2 separate regions of the Homo sapiens genome follow, and region 1 is linked to region 2. Evidence: fine-mapped expression QTL. A gene starts in region 2. The other region holds a variant in brackets. All regions are shown on one strand. Distances are from middle to middle.

The links.
Region 1: its variant is fine-mapped to the expression of LINC01124 in tibial artery (GTEx, PIP 0.95).

What each region holds. Positions count from the first base shown.
Region 1 is chr2:170,809,177-170,818,269 of GRCh38, forward strand. It overlaps GAD1 (glutamate decarboxylase 1), which reads left to right and starts at 7,711. Exons shown (of 17, transcript NM_000817.3): 1 at 7,711-7,872. GAD1-AS1 (GAD1 antisense RNA 1) reads right to left here. Exons shown (of 4, transcript NR_197761.1): 2 at 8,542-8,739; 3 at 7,678-7,856; 4 at 5,447-7,309. RefSeq lists a silencer at 7,526-7,605 and an enhancer at 7,693-7,862. The variant C/G (reference allele first, on the strand shown) is at 5,218.
Region 2 is chr2:170,710,731-170,719,823 of GRCh38, forward strand. It overlaps LINC01124 (long intergenic non-protein coding RNA 1124), which reads right to left and starts at 3,837. Exons shown (of 1, transcript NR_027433.1): 1 at 1,709-3,837. It overlaps SP5 (Sp5 transcription factor), which reads left to right and starts at 4,607. Exons shown (of 2, transcript NM_001003845.3): 1 at 4,607-4,833; 2 at 5,529-7,348. The coding sequence starts at 4,783. The coding sequence ends at 6,674. All of the region lies in intron 5 of ERICH2-DT (ERICH2 divergent transcript), which reads right to left. It overlaps LOC100130256 (a long non-coding RNA gene), which reads right to left and starts at 1,277. Exons shown (of 10, transcript NR_187629.1): 1 at 1,134-1,277. RefSeq lists a silencer at 3,924-3,973 and enhancers at 4,191-4,980, 4,981-5,768, 5,769-6,558.

The DNA.
Region 1 (9,093 bases), 98 kb after region 2:
AAGAACACTTGAATATTTGAGTAAAGACAGAATGAGAAGGAACAAACCCTACAAATGCCTGGAGGAAGAGCTTTCCAAGCACAGGGTTAGTAATTACAAAGTCCCTGGCCCATTCTACTTCATGTTTATGAAACAGCAAGGAGGCCATTGTCCCTAGGGTGGAGTGAGGATGGGGCAGAGCAGTATAAGAAGAACTCAAACAGGTAACAAGGTCAGACCGTGTAGGGCTTTGTCAGTATTATAAAGACTTTGTCTTTTCCTCTGAGATGCGGAATCATTAGAGGGTTTTGAGTAGAGGAAAGCCATGATATGAGTATGACCTAGTATTTTACATTGTGTGTGTTAGGGAAGGAAACAAGGGATAGTAAGAGCAGAAATAGAGAGTGAAGTTGTTAAAGTTTGAAAGTAGCTCCACCAGAATTTACTGACAGATTGTAAGGAAGAAGTCAGTGATAACTCCAAGGTTTTGGACCAGACCAACTGGAAGGTGGAATTGCCTCTAGTTATTTACAGAGATGGAGAAAACTGTAATAGCAGCAGGTTTGGAAAAAAGTATCAGGAGTTCAATTTGGGACACCTTAAGTTTCAGATGCCTATTAGAAATCCAAGTGGATGGCCAGGTGTGGTGGCTCATGCTTGTAATCCCAGCACTTTGGGCAGCCAAGGCAGGTGGATCACCTGAGGTCAGGGGTTCGAGACCAGACTGGCCAACATAGCAAAACCCTGTCTCTACTAAAAACACAAAAATTAGCCGGGCGTGGTAGCACATGCCTGTAATCCCAGCTACGAGAGAGGCTGAGGAAGGAGAATTGCTTGAACCCAGGGGGCAGAGGTTGCAGTGAGCCGAGATCACGCCACTGCACTCCAACTGGGCGACAGAGCGAGACTCCACCTCAAAAGAAAAAAAAGAAAAAAGAAAAAAAAAAATCCAAGTGGAAAATTCAACTGGACATATCAACCTGGAATGCTGAACAGAGGTTCAGGGTAAAGATATAAATTTGGGAGTCAATAACATCTAAATTTTTTTATTTTAATTGAAATAAAAATTAAGATATTTAAAACTGCCAGATTGGATGAGATTACAGAGGGAGAGAATGAAGGTAGGAAAATTGAAACGATCAAAAGATTGAATCCCAGCAGAAATCCATAATTATGTATAAATGTCACCTCATCACAAAACTGGCTCCCTCTCTCCCTTTCCTAAGAGAGTCTGAATACTCCATCAGAAAACTTTCTCTACAAATCAAACTATCTTTGTGGACTAATAAAAACCTCTAAGGCACTAAAGAGGAGGGCTTTGAGTCCTATGTCCGGGAATGATCAGTAGCTCTACTAAAAGAAATTGGCAAAATAATACAAATATTATGCTTAGCTTATACATCCAAGGAGAACAAATTTAATTTGTTCAAAATCACTGTTGAACTAAGGGGAAGGAGCAGAAGCAGCTATTAAACATGTATTGAACACCATTAACTAGGCACACTTGAGCTTGCTAAAATGGGTTCTCTTTTTTTTGAGACTGAGTCTTGCTCTGTTGCCCAGGCTGGAGTGCAGTGGGCAATCTCAGCTCACTGCAACCTCTGCCTCCCAGGTTCAAGCAATTCTGCCTCAGCCTCCTGAGTAGCTGGGATCACAGGCGTGCGCAACAATGCCTGGCTAATTTTTTTATTTTTAGTAGAGACGGGGGTTTCACCACGTTGGCCAGGCTGATCTCGAACTCCTGACCTCAGGTGATTTGCCTGCCTCAGCCTCCCAAAGTGCTGGGAATTACAGGCGTGAGCCACCACGCCCGGCCTAAAATGGGTTCTATGAGCATCAAATAAGATAGCCCACAAGGCTGATATTAACCCCCATTTTACTTAGAAGTAAACTTGGAGCAGTCAAACAATAGCCGATAAGTAGAATCTAGATGTAAACTCAAGTCAGACTGACTTCAACATTTTTGCTTTTCTCCCAGTAAAAGCTGCCTTGAGGGCCTCAAGAGGTTCTTGAGTCCATGGTATTTACAACATGAGAAGAGTTGCCAGTGAGAAGAATCACAAAATACCTGTAATAATAAATTGTTTCAGATGAATGAAACCTCATCTGGTCTTATCTTGTACCCAAACCCTCCCATTATGGGGGTCTGGAGAGATTCTGTGATTTTTCCAAGGTCAAATGATTATTATGTGACAGAGCCAGAAGGCTTCACTGAACAAGCATAAGGCGCTGGGACTGAGAGAAGAAGAAAGCATTTCCAGCCCCCTGCGCACTAAGCATGTGGTCTGGGAAGTCCTGTAGCCTCTCTGGACTTAAGTTTCCTCATCAAGAAAACAGAAGACCTCAGGTGATAATTAACTGAGAATTCATACAATAAACACACCACACAATTTCCCTGAGACTTATTTCCTTCCTCTATGAGGATAATTATTAGTCGTGTTGCTAAAGAGAGAGAGACCGCAAGAGAGACCGAGATATATAGAGAGAGTTCTCTAATGTCCCCCACAGACCCCAGCACCACCACTGTTGGCCAGACTGGGCCCACAGTAAGCAATTCTGGGCAGCCTATGTCAGACTTTACCCTGAGTTCCACCTTGCGCCTGCGTTGGCTTTTTTTTTTTTTTTTTTTTTTTTTGAGGCAAGAGTCTCACTCTGTTGCTCAGGCTGGAGTGCAGTGGCACGATCTTGGCTCCCTGCAACCTCTGCCTCCCGACTTCACATGATTCTCGTGCCTCAGACTCCCAAGTAGCTGGGATTCCAGGTCGTGCAGCACCATAACTGGCTAATTTTTGTATGTTTAATAGAGATTGGGTTTCTCCATGTTGCCCAGGCTAGTCTCGAACTCCTGGCCTCAAGAGATCTGCCTGCCTCGGCCTCCTAAAGTGCAGGGATTACAGGCGTGAACCACCGCACACAGTCCCCGTTGCCCTTCTTGGTATAGGAGAGTGTATTCGTCAGCTATTGTCACAATATTTGATATAGTTTGGATGTTTGTCCTCTCTAATCTCGTGCTGAAATGTGACCCCCAATGTTGAAGGTGGGGCCTAATGGGAACGGCAATCAATCATGCACCCCTTCTGTTAAAGTTCCAGTTTCCTCCCCTGAGTAACTGGTCAGGATTAGGGGAAGAAACCTGGCCTGGAATAGAAGTTTAAGTTATTAGATTCGCCACAACTAAGTCAGAACTTTCCAGAACCTTTTCACAAACAACAGTCCCAGATACCTATGTTTGAAAATGGGGACTAAATATCTGTTATTTTAAGTAGTCCAAGAGCTTTTACACTAAAAGAAATGAATAAAATATTACTCTCCTCAGTCTCCCATGAATTCTGTATTTCACTAAAGCATCTCAGGTGGGAAATCCTCCTTTTTGCATCCCACCCTTTTGGGGAAGGACTGATTTCGCCTTGGTTTTTGTTGAGATCAGAAGACACAGATATACCTTTAAAGCTCCCCATCAGAATTACAATCCAGAACTGTATTTCCTTGGTTTCCAGTTTTGCAGTGAATCAGTTTCTTGCCTAATATTCACAGGTTCACTACATTTGAGACACAGCTAGGTGGGAAAAAAACAGATGCCATGCACCCCCTAGTCTTTCACCAAAGAGACGCACTACCCTAGGTGTTTCAGGTCACTTCCAGAGCACTTCTGACCATTTGAAAAGGCCCTGCTTTGTGAAATTTGGCAGGGATGAGTATGAGCCTGCATTCTTCCTTGAAGAACTGCTCCCTTGGGAGGCCTGTTGTTTCTTCTCAGAAATTGTAATCTATTGCCACCTGGTGGTCATTCTGTCTTCGAGTTTAGAATAGCAAGAATTGGACGTTTCAAGATTTGCACAAGGAGATTTGCCCAAACACAAATCACCCTGTCCTCCTTGATTCATTTATTTGTATTAGAATATTTTCATCTTCTGACTATCAAGGGGGAAGGACCATTTGCCAGTTATCCGAAGAATCCAGCTCTCTTCTTTAGAAAAAGTGGCTGTAATTCCTAGAGTCCTCTCCAGCCTTCCAGCATTCTGCTGTCACCCCTCCCACCCCCTCTCACCCTTTTAACATTTTCCTGCCTCCCAGCTGTGAGTGTTGTGTGGTCTGTTGGGATGGGGGTGTGGATTTAGCTATGATCCTTCAAAAAAGTCCAGAATAATTCAGGGAACTATCTTTAAAGTACAAAAACAGCAAATGGACCTTAGCTCCGACTTAAGCAGAATGAAAGGTTAAGTAACGCTTCCCCCAGTTCTCGTCTCGGGAGACAGACGTTTAACCGGTGAGCACTGCCATTTTTTTTTTCCTTTCTGGTCATAAATTAGACACTTAAAATAGATTTTAAGGAGCCAGCTGAAACGAACCAATACCATGGCTCTAAATTACGTTTCCTGGAGGCTAAAAATTCTAATTGCGTCAAAAAAAATTGACGTGTCCTGTCTACTCACCTTGACTGACCACGTTTTAGGCGTGAAGATCTCCCCGCAGCCCGTTTGGGCGCTCCTTCAACGCCTCACGCTCCTCCTACTCACCCGTTTTTCCCTTTGCAGAAAAGGCTTGGCCCCAAATCCGGTTGGAATATCTTTAAACAATCCCCCACCCACCCACGACGGGGAAAGGAATAAAGGGCATTGTGGGCGGAGGGTCGTGTTCCCAAGTCCCAGCGGTGGTTGACCTAAGGAAACGTTATCCTCGGCAGACAGGGTGGAGTAGCCGGGGCTGCAAGCTCGCAAATCCCTAATGCCGGAGAGAGACTGGAGGGGTCGCATATCGCCCCCTCCTTCTTCTGCCTTTGAGCGCCGCGTTCCCATTTCTTCAAAGCGCTTCAAATACAATCGAAACAGCTGGGCGGACACCACTCCCTTCCGGGCCACCCCTCATCACCGGTTCGAGTCCCCGGAGAGGATATCTTTTTTCCACCCCCATTATCCCAAGAATCCTCCCCCAGGAATGATAAAAGATTAAAGGAAGAGTGAAAGACATAAACAAAAATATAGGTTTCAAATGTTGTTTAGAGCCGAATGACAACCACGGCCACTCTTAGTTCAAATTCCTACCGGAGAGAAGAGCAGTGGGCGAAATACCTCACCCCCCAACTAGGCAAAACAAACAGCAGTTACTGTCAGGAGGGAGGAGGGCTGGGGCGAGTCTGGTGGGTTGGCCCATAGCTATTGGCGGAAGCAAACGAAACAGAGGCATGGGGACCAGAAGGACGGGCGCTGTCCTTCGTGCTGAAAGATCTATGCCCTACCT[C/G]AAAACTCAGTAATCTGGATGGAGTGGAATTCCAGGCCTTCAATTCATTACCATTCCTGCTGTGCCCAAGAGTTCGAGTTGGAGGAGATCATTGAAAATTAAATCAAATTTATGAAGTTTCTAAGTGCGCTCCTCTCCCTGCCTCACCGGAATGTCCACTCCCGGCGTGCAGGATAATATAAACCGCAGGGACAATGCAAGCTCCAAAAAATAAGTGCTTGGCACATAGTAGGGGATTAATAAATATTCGTTTAATCAATTACTGCTAATATTCAATTAAACATTCTAAACAAGGACGGACAAAAGTCTTCATTCCTCCCCTACTCACCATAAAGGAGAAAGAGAGGGATGTCCTCGAAGCTGGACGGACTCAGCTTCAGCTTGCGTTACCTAGCCTTGCAGGAGATTCCTTCTCCAACGAGATTATTTCATTGGCTAAAACGTTAGGGGTGTTTTGAACTCTGGGGTCAAAGGAGGAAGTGGTTGGAAATGTCTCAATCTCGTGCCACAGGTGAAGTAAACGAATCTTCCTTTCCAGGGAATCACGGGTTTTGGGAAAAGGTTGAGGCGAGCGGGCGTCTATGCTGGACAATGAAGAACGAGGGGCACCGGGAGATGTGTTGCCTCCTCCTTCCTGTCTCCTGCCCCGTGCGTCTTGAATGATTTAGCACTGGCACCTGGCTCCCTGATTGGTGCGAGCGTCTCGTTTAGGGAAGGCTCTAGGAGGGCCGGTGGATGGAATTCCGAGCTTCACCTGGTTGTATGCCGCCCACTTCAAGCAGCGCAGAGCAGCTGCCGGTTGAGTGGTTTGGGGGGACGTTTCCTACGTGGAGCAGACACCCCCAGCCTGTCCAGCCCCAAGCCTCAGTGCCCGGGGCTGCAGTCACCGCGCGCCCCGCCGTTTAGGATGTTTTTTGTGTCCTTAAAAAGTGCCGGGGATTTCATCGTCAGGTGGAGACAAGGCGACAAAACAGTAGTTTCTTTAGTACCAAAGGCAACGCGATTATTTCAAACCCCACAGCGAGATCCCTCTTGCTGATCAGGCCATGTCTGCCCAGGGCGGACCCTTCGATCTCCCTTATGGAACTCTCGGTAATTTATAATATTTTTGTGTGTGTTTCCATTGTGTTGTGGTGAAAGGCGATAAGGCATTCAAAGAAAACGGACGGGCCTCCGCTGAACCAGTGAGGCCCCAGACGTGCGCATAAATAACCCCTGCGTGCTGCACCACCTGGGGAGAGGGGGAGGACCACGGTAAATACCAGTAAAGGAATCACTGCCTACACGGTGTCACCCAGACACGCACAGACATCAACATTTTTGCCCTAAAGAAAAAAACTGGGGGAGAAGAAAGGGGAGAACTTAAACTAGTGACAGGGCGGTGAGGGAAGGCATGAAGAGGCAAGCCGGCGCGTAACCGTCTGGCCAGCAGCTCCAGGTGTGGGCTCCGCTCGGGCGCTGGCGGAGAGACCCGGGAGCGCAGGGCCTCTCCGTCTCTGGGCTCTTGGCGCCCTCTGGTGGGAATTTCTCTTTCAACGCATTTTTACGGCGAGGGGCTTCTCCCAACGCAGCGGTTCTTTTAACTACGCCTAAATATTGCAAAGGGAGAATCCTTAAAGCGCGTGAAATCGAAGGGGGAGCGGGCCAGGGCAAGGGGGGCTGGTCCGCCCCTTCCGGGCACCTCTGTGCTCGGGTGCCCCATGCGCGTGCAGCGGCGCTCGTGCGTGTCATCAACCTTCAAACGTGATTAATCAGGAGGCCTTCTTTTCCCATCACCAAGGGGGCCAAAGCGAGGAGCGAGCGCATAGCAAAAGGGACGCGGGGTCCTTTTCTCTGCCGGTGGCACTGGGTAGCTGTGGCCAGGTGTGGTACTTTGATGGGGCCCAGGGCTGGATGAGGAAACTGTAATTCCTCCATGGTCTAAGAGGTCTCCCCTCATTTCTGCCTCCTTTGCGGTTACAACAATCCCAGCTCCGTAGAGAGCCAACGAGGACACGACCCAAAGCGCGCTTTCGCTCAAGGAAGCGTCGCAGGGTCACAGATCTGGGGGAACCCCGGGGAAAAGCACTGAGGCAAAACCGCCGCTCGTCTCCTACAATATATGGGAGGGGGAGGGGAAATGGGAGAGGGGAAAGGAGGGGAGGGAAGAAGAAACGCTCAGAAAGGCAGAATTCTTCGTAGGAATTATCTTTTCCCTCCTCTCACCCGACAGCCTGCCTATTTCCAAAGGAAAAAAAAAAAGCGTGTTGAGTACGTTCTGGATTACTCATAAGACCTTTTTTTTTTCCTTCCGGGCGCAAAACCGTGAGCTGGATTTATAATCGCCCTATAAAGCTCCAGAGGCGGTCAGGCACCTGCAGAGGAGCCCCGCCGCTCCGCCGACTAGCTGCCCCCGCGAGCAACGGCCTCGTGATTTCCCCGCCGATCCGGTCCCCGCCTCCCCACTCTGCCCCCGCCTACCCCGGAGCCGTGCAGCCGCCTCTCCGAATCTCTCTCTTCTCCTGGCGCTCGCGTGCGAGAGGGAACTAGCGAGAACGAGGAAGCAGCTGGAGGTGACGCCGGGCAGATTACGCCTGTCAGGGCCGAGCCGAGCGGATCGCTGGGCGCTGTGCAGAGGAAAGGCGGGAGTGCCCGGCTCGCTGTCGCAGAGCCGAGGTGGGTAAGCTAGCGACCACCTGGACTTCCCAGCGCCCAACCGTGGCTTTTCAGCCAGGTCCTCTCCTCCCGCGGCTTCTCAACCAACCCCATCCCAGCGCCGGCCACCCAACCTCCCGAAATGAGTGCTTCCTGCCCGCCCTAGTCCCTGCTCTCCACGGGTGCGCTGCGCAGGGACCCCCCCCCCCCCGCCTCCCTCGTCACTCTTCTTATCCCTGCCCTCCGGATTCACGCCCCGGGGAAGCACGGAGGCTGAGGCTCTAGTTGAAGTGGGGCAAGAGCGATTTTCCCTTGAGCTTCCATGCTGCGAGCGCCTGTCCCTCCAAAGGGCGCCTGGGCAGCAGCAGCCGAAGGCGCTACTAGGAACGGTAACCTGTTACTTTTCCAGGGGCCGTAGTCGACCCGCTGCCCGAGTTGCTGTGCGACTGCGCGCGCGGGGCTAGGAGTGAGGTCGGAGGGAGGGTGTGGAGGCGATGGCCGGTGGGCCCTTCTCTGTGGGGTCCTCGATCTACCCAGATTAGCCCGCAATCTCTCTGTCCCGGGGCCTTCGGGCGCCATCGCGCCAGCGCCGAGAGTCGAGCAGGGGCGCCGCGCAAGATCTTTGTCCGCCGCCTCCTGCGCGCTGCGCGCAAGTTCGTTTCCCCGGTGACGTTCCCCATGCTTACTTACCCCACCCTCTCTGGATCTGTACCGCGAGAAATCTGGGGTCCTCAGGGGGCTAGGTAGAGGAGAAACGCTGAAACCGGACCGAAACCTCGCCCTAGGCTTAGCGATGGCTAAAAACCGGCTGGGATAAGAGGGAGGCAAGCAACATTCCGACTCGCTGCTTTCTGGCTGTCTGGAGTGCAAGGTGACTGTGGTTCTTCTCTGGCCAAGTCCGAGGGAGAACGTAAAGATATGGGCCTTTTTCCCCCTCTCACCTTGTCTCACCAAAGTCCCTAGTCCCCGGAGCAGTTAGCCTCTTTCTTTCCAGGGAATTAGCCAGACACAACAACGGGAACCAGACACCGAACCAGACATGCCCGCCCCGTGCGCCCTCCCCCCGCTGGCCCACACGCCGGCTGCTGAGTGCCCAATGGGGCTTGTAGCGGCTCGGCTGGAAAATCGCTCACTGAGCGCTCCCCTGTGCTCCTAGCCTAGTCCCCCACACCCTTGCGTCTTGTACTGGCCTTGGACCCCCACCCCGACCCCGACCCCGCCTCGTCTCGGCGCTTCACTCCA
Region 2 (9,093 bases):
AAGCCTCCTTTGACCACCCCAGTCCTCACCAATCCTCTCTGACTTCCTACTACATTTGTGTGCTCTGTGGCACCAGTCATACGCTGATGACATTGGTACACACAATTCCACTCTACCACCCAACATCAATGAGCATTTATTGAGCATCTACTGAAGCTCACAGCATTGTGCAGGCAGGATACATATCATACAAATGCTGTTTCCTCCTCCCACCAAATGAGGGAGAATTAGATGAGATTTTTAAAAATTCCTCCTAGTTCTACAACCAGTATTGTATACTGATCCAATTTGGAAGTTTAAGTTTAAAATTAATTCAAGGATTCCAGTTGAGGAAATGGTCCCACTTCCTTGGAAAGTAAACTAGCTCGGTCACCAGGCTAGGTTACCCACGTTGTAATTGCTTGTGATTGACTACTCCACCGTATTAATGATGAAGTGCCCCCGACTTGAGATGCAGGCGTTAGGGCATCTGTGATTTGATCTGCAGCTTAAACTGGGAGACCACTCCAAATCCTCAAAGTTAACTTTGAGTATCAGATTGCAATCCCTCCCCCCACCACCATAAAAAAAAAATCTTTCAAATTGAAGAGGCAAAGTTTGAACCTTTCCTTGTTGAGAGATGAGAACAATAGCAGCTTTCTGCTCTAGCACAGCTTCAAAAGGCTGCCGAGGGACTGCTCTGAGAATTCTTGGTTGTAGATGACTGAAGAAATGCATGGGCAGCCTCCTGCGATTCAGTGCCGCATTAGCACCGGGGAAATTCTGTCCCCACCCTCCCAGAACCTTTAGTATAGCAACGATTTAACTAGGCAGATATGGGCAACTGCAAAATTGAGTCTCCTTGGCAAGGAGTGGGGAGATCCAGCCGATTAAGCAACATCTTACTGTGAAAGGCCAAAGCATTAAGAATTTGCTGAAATGATCTAAATAATATCTAGATTTTTAAAAAATCTAGCTTGAGAGGGGTGACTCTCTGGTTGGATTTATGCCAGAGGCATGCGTCCCTTCTAGCTGCAAGAAAATGCCCGAGGCGAGGTACCAAGCTTGGGCTGGAAGTAGCAACCCCTGACTTAATCCCAGAGCGCGCAGAGCTGGTCCGTCCCCTGCGCAAGTGTCACTGCGGGTTCACCTACCGGCCTCTTCCTCTCGCAGGTGGCATGCAGTCGGCGCTCGCCGCCCGCCCGCAAAGAAACGGCAATGCAAACTTCCCAGCCTGGGAACCCCGCTGCTTGGAGAGCAGCTCCGCTGTGCCAGCCGCCGCCAGGAGACTGGTATTCAACCTCCCCGCCCCCCGCCACGGTTAAAGTTTGCTCCACATTCGCAGCTCCCACCCCACCCCCATCTCCGCCCCGAGGCAGGAGGACCACATAGGAGTTCCTGGGTCCACCGTGCGCAAACACACCCACCAACAAAAGAAAGCCCATTAAATCTTCCCTCCTGTGAACTCGCGCCCCAACGGATACCTCTTTGAACTGACCCCCGCCCCCGCAGCCCCCGCGCTGTCTGGGGCGCGCCTGGCCCTCCCGGGCTTACTCTCTCCCCCACAGCTGCGCACTTTTGCAGCGCGCTCGGTCTTTGATGTCTCTTTACATTATGGCAGAGCAGCCACACGCTCTTCCCGGGCGCGGGGCTTTGTGTAATGGAACTGACATTTGGCCTTGATACCTGTATCTCTTGGTGATTACAACAAATTTCTAAAATAAATATTGTACTTTGATCTCCCAGCATTGCATTTTTAATGGACGCTCTCAACATTACTTCATTAAGAACTTTTTCCAGGAGCTCCGAGGGCCAAGGGGGTTGGGGGAGACTAAACAGCTATTCAGCAAAGCCTCTCTCCAAACTTCAGCTGGGGCCTGGGAGGACCGGAATCTGGACGGGTTTTCACAAACGGAGATGAGGCCGAGAGCAGCCAACTGCGACCACTCAAGAGAGGGCCTTCTGTACGCTCAGCACCGTCCTAAAGACCTTGCGTATATTAACTCTTAAACCTATAGCCACTCTACAAGGGGTGCACTATTGTAACTCCCATTTTACAAACCGCAAAACTGAGGTACACAGCGGCTGAGTACCTTGCTTGCCAAGGTCACCAACTAGAAAGTGGCAAGGCGGGAAAAATGTCTTCAGAGAGTTCGGACTCCGAGCTTTCAACCACCAAGCCACTAACTTTGACCCTGTTGGCCCACTGATGGTTTAACTGGCTAATGGGGGCATCTTGGAGAAAAAGCTAATTCCCATAACTATGGGGATGTGAAATGGCTTTTCTGGCCTTTTTGGGAAAGTAGCTATCAGATTCAATAAAAAGGGCTGCCTTCCATCCTGCTTAGCCCGGCCCTGCCCGCCTCCCTGGGAAAGGGGACTTCGAAGATCTCAAAGAAGCTGGAAAGGAAACCAGCGCTAAGGAACCAGATCGCTTCGAGGGTGCAAGCATGTGCAGGCGCGAGTGTGTGCCAAGGGGCTCCCTGGCCTCCGACTTGCATCCAGGGAAGAGCTCCCTCGAGTCTCACGCTTCTCCAAGACTCAAATCCTGGACGGGAGCGTGGGAAGGAGCAGGTTGGCCAGGCCTCGGATGAAACCACTAAGCTCTCTCCCCTTCTCCGCTCCCAGAGCAGCCGACCTCATCTTCAGAAGCCAGATCGGGTCGGCCAAGTTGTGTGGTCGCCGCTCGCGTTTTAGAGGGGACAACTCGTTGGGGGAGAAGGGGGCGTGCGAGTGCAGGATGTGCGAGGGACCCATTGTATTTGGGTCGCAAGCAGCCCACCCGTCTTGAGTACGATATTCTCATTCCGCAGGCGCGCCCTGGGCGTGGGAGAAGGTGGGCCCGGAGGCATCGCATCCCCGACCCCTGATGGAAGTGCGGAGGGCATCCTTATACAGTCCAGATTCCGAGTCCGTTGTAGTTAGGCTAACCTCTGACGCTGCATCGGGAGATAGGTCACCCCGTCCGTCCCGGTCGCAGTGCGGTTCCCGTGAGGAAGACGGGCAGAGAGGCCGGGCGCGAACTGATTAGGGGCTCCCCCACGGCCGGCGGCCTGGAGAGTGGAGACTGTGTCCGACGGGAGGTGGGTGGGGGAGAGGAGTAGGCCGAGCTCCGGCGGCCACTCCGCAGTGCGCTCTCGCGAGCCGGGGCCGCGAGGCCTCCAACGCGGTTCCGCACCCCTAATGCCCCAGGGCGGTGAGCACCCCGCGGTTCCCCGCCCGCCTCTTCCTCCTTCCCCGCCCGCGCGCCCGGGAGAGGCGATCCCCGCGTCCGCAGTGCCGGGGCAGGACGCGCCCTGCGCCCTGGGCCAGGAGGAGGCAGGTGGCCCTCCTCGGCAGGAGGTGAGCCGCCAGGGAGGGATGGGGGTCACCCAAGCCCCTGCAAGCGCGACCCTGCCCAGAGCAAAGCACGCCCCGCGCCTGGTGAGGAACTTTTTCTTTCCAAAGGTGGCAGGAACAAGTCTGTACTGACTTTTCTCCCGCCTTCGGGATCCTCTCTCGTATGATTTGTGGTTTGTGGGACCACAACAACCAGGCTTCCTCGACCGCGCCTTTTTTCCAGTAGCTCCTGGTCTGCCAGGCTTGCGAGAGGGCGCGCTGGCTTGGCGGGGCTCCGGGCGAGAAATCACCAGCAGCGCTGGGGCTTTCGGCCCCCCACAGCCCAGCCCGGGCCTCCTGGGTGGCCTGGGGAGAAGGGGGCGGGACAGCACAGCTTCTTCCCCTCGGGTGGGCATGACGGGTCGCCTTGGGTGTCCTGCCGAGCTCAGCTTTGAGGGTATGCGCGGCGCGGGTGTTTTTCCCAGGTCCACTCTGCAAAAGTTGTGGCCTGAGGAAAACTTCCAGGTCGCCAGCAGGAACGTCACAGGAGAGCCCCGGTCGCTCGTCAGGCGGGCGGCCCTGGAGCGTGCGCGCCACCCAACGCCGCGCTGGGCGGCCGCCCGGCCCCGCCCCAGGTCACAGCCCTGCCCTCGGCCCCACCGCGGCGGGCGGGGGACACGCGGCGGGCCGGGCGCTGTCGGTCCCACGCCCCACCGGGGATCTCGCTTGGGTCCGCTGTGTGCGCGGGCGGGTGCGTGTGCGGCGAGGGTGCAGGGTGTGCAAGTAAATACAGGGGAGAGTTACACTCTTTGCCGTCTCAAAGTCCGGCGCCTGGAAGCCGAAGGCAGATTTTTCCAGAGATAACAAAGACACTTTGTCACTTTGGGCGCTGCGTCGGTGCAAATCTTTAATTGCAAGTGTGTGTGTGTGTGTGTGTGTGTATGTTGGGGGGGGCGGGAAGAGTGTCTCGAGCAACCCAAGCGCGGGTCTCCAGGCGGCAAGGCCCCCTTTGATCAGGAAAATCCAATTATTTGTGTATATACATTTCCCACATAGTGATTACTTCATTAATTGTCCCGCCTTTATCTCCTCCCTTCCCATCCCCCCTAATAATCAGTTCTTTTATCCAGACCAACAAACACACCATAGGAGCTTTGTGGATTCAAAGGATTTGCTTTCGCTTCTGAAAGAGCCGCTATTCTTTGATGATTGGGTAGCGGCAAACTTCAAAGCCATAAATCTTCCCTCTGACTGGCTGGCGGCCCAGCAAAGTCCTTATCAAATTCTTGGAGGTGATCCTGAAGCGCTCAGACCGCGCGCGGGGCGAGCGAGCGGGGCGCGGCGAGGGGCAAGGGCGGGGAGGGCCCCGGCGCTCAGAGCAGGCGCCAGGGAGGCAGGCTGGGCGGCCCTTCGTCCTCGCCTTCGGGTGTCCATGCCTCGGCGGCGGCGTCCCGCTCCGCAGCCAGGGGCCTGCAAGCCGTAGCCATGGCCGCGGTGGCCGTCCTCCGGAACGACTCGCTGCAGGCCTTTCTCCAGGTCAGGGCCGAGCCCGGAGGGGGCGGGAGAAAGGTGGAAAGGGCCGTGTCCGGATCTCTCCTGGTACTCCGTGCACCTTGAACCTCAAAGGGAACCCCGCCGATGGGTGCAGCTGGAGCCAGGCCTAGGGGTGCCCACGCCAACTTCACACCTAATCCGGTGTGGCCTTTGCTGGAGGGACGCGTGGATCCGGGATTGTTCGGAGGTGCCCGGCTGGCCGAGAACAGGACCGGAGCTCACCCTGCTGGGCCCTCCTGCTGATTTCAGCCTGGGGCGGGCCAGGGAGGAGCGCGAAGGCAGTGAGGACAAGAGAGCTTAAAAGATGGGAGGGAGAGCGGCCGGCCGGCGGGGTTGTGGGTGTTTCCCGACTCTTACTGACCACGGAGCCGGGAGGGGCCCGTCGGATGCCTCCCCCTCCCACTTCGCGCCTGCTTCCTCTAAGGCTGGATGGCGTCTCAGTGCACCAAGTAGTTTAGCAAGAAGCGCTCGCGGGCCCCACGTTCAGGTAGCGCAGGCACCAAAAGTTTCCCTCGGCCGGTGGGTGCGTGCGTGGGGTGCGGTGGCGGGGGAGGGACGGCCGGGACGGAGGAGGGGCGGCGGTATAATAGCGGGCGTGGGGGCGGCGGGCTGGCCCGGAGTCCGCGCTTGGAGCTAACCTTTTGTCTCTTCTCCGCCCTCCCTCGCCGCCTATGCAGGACCGCACCCCCAGCGCCTCCCCGGACCTGGGCAAGCACTCGCCCCTGGCATTGCTGGCCGCCACCTGTAGCCGCATCGGCCAGCCGGGCGCGGCGGCGCCCCCGGACTTCCTGCAGGTGCCCTACGACCCCGCGCTGGGCTCACCCTCCAGGCTCTTCCACCCGTGGACCGCCGACATGCCGGCGCACTCGCCAGGCGCACTGCCGCCCCCGCATCCCAGCTTGGGGCTGACGCCGCAGAAGACGCACCTGCAGCCGTCCTTCGGGGCTGCGCACGAGCTTCCCCTTACACCCCCCGCCGACCCCTCGTACCCCTACGAGTTCTCGCCGGTCAAGATGCTGCCCTCGAGCATGGCGGCTCTGCCCGCCAGCTGCGCGCCCGCCTACGTGCCCTACGCGGCGCAGGCCGCGCTGCCGCCAGGCTACTCCAACCTGCTGCCTCCGCCGCCGCCACCGCCCCCGCCGCCCACCTGCCGCCAGTTGTCACCCAACCCGGCCCCCGACGACCTCCCGTGGTGGAGCATCCCGCAGGCGGGCGCCGGGCCGGGGGCCTCCGGGGTTCCGGGAAGCGGCCTCTCCGGCGCCTGTGCCGGGGCCCCCCACGCGCCCCGCTTCCCCGCCTCTGCGGCCGCTGCTGCTGCGGCCGCCGCCGCCCTACAAAGAGGCCTGGTGTTGGGCCCGTCGGACTTTGCGCAGTACCAGAGCCAGATCGCCGCGCTGCTGCAGACCAAGGCCCCCCTGGCGGCCACGGCCAGGAGGTGCCGCCGCTGCCGCTGTCCCAACTGCCAGGCGGCGGGCGGCGCCCCCGAGGCGGAGCCGGGGAAGAAGAAGCAGCACGTGTGCCACGTGCCGGGCTGCGGCAAGGTGTACGGGAAGACGTCGCACCTGAAGGCGCACCTGCGCTGGCACACGGGCGAGCGACCCTTCGTGTGCAACTGGCTCTTCTGCGGGAAGAGCTTCACGCGCTCGGACGAGCTGCAGCGGCACCTGCGGACTCACACGGGCGAGAAGCGCTTTGCCTGTCCCGAGTGCGGCAAGCGCTTCATGCGCAGCGACCACCTCGCGAAGCACGTCAAGACTCACCAGAATAAGAAGCTCAAAGTCGCTGAGGCCGGGGTTAAGCGGGAGGACGCGCGGGACCTGTGAGCCCTCCCGGAGGTGGACCCCCTTCCCAGCACCTCTGCGAGAGATCCGGGGACCTGTGGGCAGCTGGCGGAGGGGAGACTCAGCAGACGGACCCTCTCCGTTGCCTGCCTCCCAAAATGGAGCCAGGCTTCCAACTTCCGCTGCCTTCGGACATAGGGACCCAGTTCCCAGGAGCGGGGAGGTAGGGTTGGGGCTGGGGCATTTGGATTGTAATTGGGAGCTCTGCCGTACGCCAGGGCGGTTCCAAACTCTAAACCGTTCCCACCGTCAGGGAGACCTACAGTTTCGGGGGACCACCCTGGTCTGGCCTTGTATATAGGAAATGCTGCTGAACTGAATAGAAAGGAACTTGGGAGATTTGAAACAGTGCTCGGGTTTTCGCTAGGACCGGTTTGGGCTTTGTACAGGTTATTTAATAGCTTTGTTAAAGATAATTATAATAATTATAACATTAATAAAAATGTTGCTTTTGTCTTCAGCTCCATGCAGAGCTACAGCATGATATGTCTCTGTAAAGTGATCAGCAGTTGCAGCGTGAAAATAAATACTTTAACTCAGGGGTCACTACAGGAAGACCCCGTTGAGCCGGTCTCATTTGATCTTTTCTTCTTCTGGGTGGCTGTACTAAGCGGTCGGGTTTCCCCGGGAATTTGATGGTTCCTATAGTCTGCCTGTGTCGGAGGCTTCTTTGGTTTGGAAGGATCTGGGCAAATGTGTTGGGTTCAGGAATGGACAAAGGCAGGCAATTCCGTTTTGTGGTAAAGAGGTAGGGCAAGATTTTCCAATCACAATTTGAGTTTCTCATGCGGCCTTAGGATTCACCCGAGACTGTTTGTCTTCCAAGTTTGTTTTTACCTGACGAATTCCCTGTGGCTTTCTATTTGTTGGTACTCTCGGGACAGGTCACAACTATGCTGGTGTTAAGAGAGGTATTAGAGGCGCCAGGATCTGTTCACAGGTGAGACTTTGTGGAGAGGTACAGAGAAACGGGACCCTTGTTCAGGTTGGTCTTTGCCTGGGAAAGAACCAAGAAGATAGTTTCCCAGACGCCACTCCTGTATTTCAGTCCCGTCACGATAGCCAGCGTTGTTTTGCTTGTTTTCTTTTTAATCTTGCGATGGAAATCTTAACAAGTCTTATTTCACAGTAACCACCCAGGAATTTCTGGCTAGGCCAGGACGTTTAGTTCCATTTTGTATCTGAATTTTATTATGTTTTTAATCATTGAAGTAGTCTAAGATTTTCTCAGGGAAGAGCCAGGAATACTCATGGTTTGGAAATGTGGAAATAGGGTATTTTTTGTCTAGGTGCCTCGCCTTTCTCTAAAAGTTGAAGTTTTGAAGTTTACAAATGTTTTATCAAGTGTCTAACTCCTTGATATTTTCTAATATTTGAGTTTTTAAACCTGTAACTGAAACTTTTATCAGCAGTTAAATCTTGATTTAAGATTAGCAAAGAACAGAAAATGTTCTAAATTTTATTAACATGTTAAGCTAGCATCATTAATGCCAAATTTTAATAGAGCCGAATAATCTTTTCATGATAGTTGAAGTGTGTACAAATTGATAGGATTTCACAGTTCACAAACTGCTTTTACTTTGCCTTTTGTTTGAAGTCAAACTGAAGGATCAGTTCTTAAAAGCTTTGAGGGTTGTTCTTGAATTCTTATACGAAGTAAAACACAAATATCAACATAATTCAGATGAAAATTACTTTTATACTCCTAAGAAATGGCATTTTTATTCTGTAACTTGGGACAAGGTAGTAAATGAATATTAGATTCATAGTGGCAATATACCTTAGAATAAGAGATATTGGAACTATTTAATGACTAATTAGAATGTGAGTCTTCATGGTTCTTCACCTGGGAAGAGGAGTTTGGGTTACATTTTCAAGGGTGTGGCAGTTTGCAAGCAATAGTGATAAAGTTGCTAGGCAGTAATATTAATATACACTTAAATATGTAATCTTAATCAAAATCATTAGATCTAAGTCATTAGATCAAGACTACACATTTTGATGTCTAAAGCAATGTGAAAAGTTATAGAAACTCTCACCTTTCTCTAAAAAGTTACAGAAACTCCCATCTGAACCATGCCCTGGGATCAACTATAGATTCAGAAAAGGATTTTTGGAAAGTGGTGAGAAAGAGGAATCCTTGTTAGAGAGTGAAAATTTTCAAAGGCTTTGGACTCAAAATTTGAAATGATTCTTTCATCTGAAAGAATGACCTTGGTAGAGAAAGAAAAATGGCCATTTAAAAATGAGTCTACTAGCTATTATTGACAGAGCCAATCATTTATTTAGTATCCAAACAGAAGAGGTGTTGAAGATAAAGTTTTCTTATAATTTTTTGGTTGTTAAATATATGGAATTTAATATCTAAGGAAATGAGATATTGGAGATAGATAACTGTGGT